2 separate regions of the Homo sapiens genome follow, and region 2 is linked to region 1. The links come from fine-mapping of genetic effects on gene expression. A gene starts in region 1. The other region holds a variant in brackets. All regions are shown on one strand. Distances are between the middles of the regions.

Region 1 (2,914 bases):
TATGATGATATCTAAATACTTTCAAAGTTGTAAAATAAACTTTGACTTGATACTGGAATGTAAGACTACCAAAACACCCCAAAAAACAAAACCAGGTCAGACACAGTGGTTCACACCTGTAATCCCAGCACTTTCGGAGGCCGAAGCAGGTGAATCACTTTAGTTCAGTTGTTCAAGACCAGCCTGGGCAATATGGCGAAAGCTCATCTCTACTAAAAATACAAAAATTAGCCAGGCATGGTGGCGCACGCCTGTAGTCCCAGCTACTCCGAGGCTGAGGCGGGAGAATCACTTGAACCGGGAGGCAGAGGGTGCAGTGAGCTGAGATCACACCACTGCACCCCAGTCTGGGCCACAGAGCAAGACTCTTATCTCAAAAAAACAAACAAAAAAACAAAAAAAACCAGGTGCAAGCACATTATAAGGGGTGAAATTAACCAAAAAAAAAAAAAAAATTGCTTCCAAACAGCAAATATTTCCCATCCTCGCTCCTTTTTAGAGTATAATGTCGGAGCTAATTCATTAATTTTCAGACAAACTAAACATTTTTGTTGACAGGACCAGCGCATTTCTCTCCCCATACAAAGGCTTCAGAGGAAATCAAACAACCAGATGGTCACTTGGGAGACTGGAGGCAGTGAATGTGGAGGCTGAGGGAACTTTCTCTCACCCGTTGTATGACTTTGTTCAAGTTTTTAGCTTTCCAGGTTTATTAAATAAATAAATATTCTAGGGGCTGGGACTTGAGATCTTTTTTAATATAAGCACTACAGCTATAAATTTCCCTCTGAGTACTGCCTTGGCTGCATCCTAAATACCTTTTGGTGTATTCTATTTTTGTTTCATTTGTCTCAAAACAAGGTCCCCGTTGTAAAGACTTATTTGACCCACCGGTTGCTTTAAGAGTGTGGTGTTTCATGTCCACATATCTGTGAATTTTCCACTTTTCCTTCTATTATTTTTAATTTCGTTCCATTACAGTCAGAAAAGATACTCTGTACGGCAACGAACGTGACAATATTGCATTCTGGAGAGTATATGAACACAACTAACTTATACAGTTGTAACGAAGGCTAAATGATGTGCGTGAATCATGCGCAAGAATCGGTGGGCAGAACACCGAATAAATACCAGTTCTTACATGACATTTCACTCCACGGAAAAATCTGGAGCGCACACTGCACCGCCGCCCGTGTGGCCTGCCCGCAACCCGGTGGCTCTGCCCGGCCCCGGCCCCCGGCCCCGGCCTCAGCCCCGCACCTCGTCTCCGCCCGATGGTCCACTCCCGCTTCCTCAGGAGGACGTGCGGCTCGCCCTCCTCCGCGCCCAGACGCAGGAGCCGTCCCCAGGGCTGCGGCGGCGGCGACTGCTTGCCTTCCTCGGGCCGCTCCATCGGGATTCACATCTGCGGAGACCCCGGAAACGCCCATGGAGACTCCCGACCCCAGAGGCCGAGACTCGGCGCCCGCCCCACCCCGCGGGCCCCGGCCCGGCCGCCCGCGCCCACGCAGCCCCGCAGCCCGGCCTGGACGCCGGCGGGCGCCCCCTCCCACGGCCGCAACCAGGTCCCCCTTCGCCGCCCGCCGCAGCCCCCTCGCCAGCCGCGCTTACCCCCGCCCCGCGCCGAACCCGGAACCGGCTGCGCCGCCGCCGCTGTCAAGAGACATTGCGGCTCCCTCAGCTGATCCGCGGGGCGGGGCCAGAGGCCTCTGCGCCCCGCGATTGGCTGGCGGCGGCGCTCACCAAGAGCGGCAGCTAAAGCGGAGCCGGGAGTGGCCCGCGAGAGTAGGCGCGTGGAGGGCGCTCGGCCATCTTTGATCCTGACCAGGCGACTTCGTCGCCTGCGGATCACGGAAGTGGCTGCGGTCGGCGCCATGTTATGTTGGGGCAGAAGGGACGGGGAACTTCCGGATTGGAAGCCCCAAGGATTCTGAGAGCCCCGCTAATCTGGGGATGACTCCTAGGAGTAGAAGACGGTCCATCTTAGTTGTCACGAGGTAGTGCACGTGGGGACCCTTTCGGGTACAGTTGCACACAGTGGATCACACAGATCCGAAGTCTGAGGCACAGGGCGCGGTCCGCGAGTGGGAGCGGCTGCTTGTGGGCAGGGTGGACGCGGGGCCACGTCTTGGCCGGCGTTTTGCGGGGTCTTCCTGTTCTGAACGCGCGTAACTTTTGCCTCAGTATCTCACTTCTTGGAATCCGGCGGCGTTCACGTGTGTGCTCCAGAGAAGGGCGCCAGAGGGTATTCCCTGAAAGTGAAAGGTCGGCGAAAGAGGAGTAAAGACGGCGAGACGCGTCCACGCAGGGGGAGTCTGTGCGGTTTGGAGGAACGCGCCAATGTCTGCACTCATGAGGAGCCCCCAAGGGCGGTTTTAAGAGGGTGAAGCAGGACCGGGCGCAGTGACTTACGCCTGTAATCTAAGTGCTTTGGAAGGCCTAGGCAGGAGGATCTCGAGCCCAGGAGTTCGAGATTAGCCTGAGACCTCATCGCTACCAAAATAAATAAAGTAGGCATCCATTTGTGTAAAACAAACCATATATACACACATATATACATATATAAACATTTGTATATATAGGTATAGGCATAGTTATCTATACCTTGTAAACCAAAAATAAAATTGTAAGCCTCCCCAACCAACTGAATGAACTGAGTCTCTCAACGCCAAAGTTAATCTGAAAAACCAGTTCAGTCCCTGATGGGAAGCAGGGTTTGGATATGTCCCATTATACTGTCCTCCCTTTGGAATTCAGGTATAACTGACCAGCGTCGACGTTAAAACAGACAACTTAAGGCTGACCAAACGGTCTGTAGCATTAAGATACATCACATGACAAATAGCAGGCCCTGGAAGAAAACGAAGTATTTTACCCTGACATGTATTTATTTAACATAGTTTTACGTAGCCCT
Region 2 (2,914 bases), 55 kb before region 1:
AATTCCAGCACTTTGAGAGGCCGAAGCAGGTGGATCACCTGAGGTCAGGAGTTCGAGACCAGCCTGACTAACATGGTGAAATCCTGCTTCTACTAAAAATACAAAAATTAGCTGGGCATGGTGGCAGGTACCTGTAATACCAACTACTTGGGAGGCTGAGGCAGGAGAATCGCTTGAACCTGGGAGGTGGAGGCTGCAGTGAGCTGGGATCACACCATTGCACTCCAGCCTGGGTGACACAGTCAGACTCTGTCTCAAAAAAAAAAAAAAAAAAAGACTGCCTTGGGATATTAGTATACACCTATTAGAACAGCTGAAATAATATACAGCAGTGGCAATATGAAATGCTGGGAATAATGTATTCTGGAGTAACTAATCTCTTATACATTGCTGATGGGAACAGCAATAGTGCACCCACTCTGGAATATAGTTGGGCAGTTTCTTCAAAAAGTAAACAATTTTATGACCCAGCAACTGCATTCCTAGACATTGAACTCAGAGAAATAAACTTATGTCTACACAAAAGCCTGTACATTACTGACCCCAAACTGGAAACAACCAAAATGTCCTCTGACATGGTGAAACAAACCATGGACCCCCCACGCCACTCTGACATGGTGAAACAAACCGTGGACCACCCACGCCACTCTGACGTGGCAAAACAAACTGTGGACCACCCACGCCACTCTGACGTGGTGAAACAAACCATGGACCACCCATGCCACTCTGACGTGGTGAAACAAACCGTGGACCACCCATGCCATGGACACTACTCAGCAATAAAAAGGAGCTGACCACTGATGTGTGCAATAACTTGGACGAAGCTCCAAGGCATTACATCCAGGGAGGAAAACATCTCCGAAGGTCTACACTGCATGAACTGTACGATGTGTCCACTTATGTCACAAAATGACAGCATTATAGAGTGGTGGTGGGGTTCGGATGACTAAAAAGGGGTAGATGGAGAGAGATTTTTGTGGTGATGGAACTGTTCTGTATTTTGTGACCGTGGTTACGTGAATGTCCTCATGTGATAAAATGACAGAATGAAGAAAACACTCCACCAAGCTCAGTTTCCTGATTTTCATATTGCACTATCCTAAGGTGTAGCCAATGGGAGAAATAGGGAAAACATTTAATTAGCATAAGATCTAGTATTCCATAGCACAGGAGGGTGAATATAGTTAATAATAATGTATTGTATATTTTTAAATAACAAAAAGAGTGGAACTGGAATGTTCCTAACAAAGAAATGATACAGGCTTGAGGTGATGGATACCCCAGTTACTGGGAGTTGATCATTATACATTGTATGTCTGTATTAAAATATCAAGGTACTCCATAAATATATACACCTTTTATGTACCCACAGTAATTTAAAATTTTAAAAATTTAGCAAGCAAAATGTGACAAACATTAAATTTAAATACAGTTAGAAACAATGAATCTAATCATATACTAAGTTGATGGCACAGTGTGGGAAAAATGCTAATCTAAGTAAAATTCTTAACAGCTTTAATACAATTTCTATGCAATAAAATATACCCGTGTTGTGTGTGCAGTTCAGCGACTGTAGTAAATGTGCAGAGCTGTGCACCCATCACTCCAACCCAGTTTCCGGATACTTCCGTTACCTCAGAAGGATCCTTCTTGCATTCACTCCCTATCCCCTCCACCCAGCCCGACAACCACTCAGTCACCTTCTGTCTTTATGAATGTGCCTCTTCTGGACATTTCATAGAAATGGGATCATATC[G/A]TATGTGGCCTTCTGTGACGCCTTTTCACTTGCATGGTGTGTTTAAGGTCCATCCACACTCAGCACGTTTCCTCGCTGCACGATACTCCAGTGTCTGGATACACCCATTTTGTCTGTCCATGCATCAGCTGATGGACCCACTGAGGTGCCTTACGCGAGCCCAGCACTATTCTGCGTGCGGGGGGTCCCTGCTTTGGTCCAGTTTCATGTTTGTGTGTGGATACCTTCAGAGGGCGGTAACTGATGAAAAGAAAATAAAACTGGGTGAAGCGTTCGAGCGAGAGGGGCTACCATCTGCATGGGGCCGTCATTCATATTTATCGTAGCCTACTGTCTGCAAGTACTATTCTAGGCACTGTCCCAAATCCCTGCTCTTACAGAAGGTATATTCTAGTGGGGACCAGACAACAAGCATAGAAGGTGACAGAAAGAGTCAAGAAAAGGCAGAGGCAACCCTGGGGAGGCTCGCTGCTATTTCAGGCCGATGGTTGAGGGAGGACTTCTCAGGAGAATGTGAGCCAACAAGTAAGAAACGGAGTTGCTGGGCGTGGCGGCTTACGCCTGGAATCCCAGCACTGTGGGAGGTAGAGGCGGGCAGATCGCTTGAACTCAGGAGTTCAAGACCAGCCTGGGCAACATGGTGAAACCCTGCTCTCTACTAAAAATTAGCTGGGTGTGGTGGTGTGCACCTGTAGTCCCAGCTACTCAGGAGGCTGAGGTGGGAGGATCATCTGAGCCCAGGAGGTGGAGGCTGCAGTGAGCTGACATTGCGCCACTGCCCTCCAGCCCTGACAACAGAGCAAGACACTGTCTCAAAAACAAAAAAAGAAAAGGAAAAGAAAAAAAAGGAATCATGCAGGTACTGGTGGGAACAGTGTCCCAGGAGAGGGAAAGGCAAGGAGAACGAGTACTCAAAGGCACCTTTGAGGAAGTAATATTTGAGCTGAACGTGCGTGACAAGGAGGACCAATGCACGCACAGATCTGGGAGAAGAGCAGTGAGGTGAGGGGGCAACAATCAGAGCCACAAGAAGCCCCTGAAGAGAAGCCTGGGGCACTGAGGACAGCCAGCAGGATGACTCCTGGGGTTGGGCCTGAGCTACAGGGAGGCCATGCCATCTTCTGACAGTGGAGAGGGCAGGTCTGCCGGGCGTACGTG

Evidence for each region.
Region 2: its variant is fine-mapped to the expression of CHFR in blood mononuclear cells (TOPMed, PIP 0.98).

Annotation. Positions count from the first base shown.
Region 1 is chr12:132,885,936-132,888,849 of GRCh38, forward strand. CHFR (checkpoint with forkhead and ring finger domains) reads right to left here and starts at 1,670. Exons shown (of 18, transcript NM_001161346.2): 1 at 1,612-1,670; 2 at 1,261-1,405. The coding sequence starts at 1,393. CHFR-DT (CHFR divergent transcript) reads left to right here and starts at 1,907. Exons shown (of 2, transcript NR_110919.1): 1 at 1,907-1,997; 2 at 2,185-2,636. RefSeq lists a silencer at 1,527-1,646 and enhancers at 1,717-2,126, 2,463-2,914.
Region 2 is chr12:132,831,242-132,834,155 of GRCh38, forward strand. CHFR (checkpoint with forkhead and ring finger domains) reads right to left here. Exons shown (of 18, transcript NM_001161346.2): 18 at 1,115-2,914. Among named protein-coding and RNA genes, the nearest start is that of GOLGA3, 3.8 kb to the left of the region's middle. The variant G/A (reference allele first, on the strand shown) is at 1,757.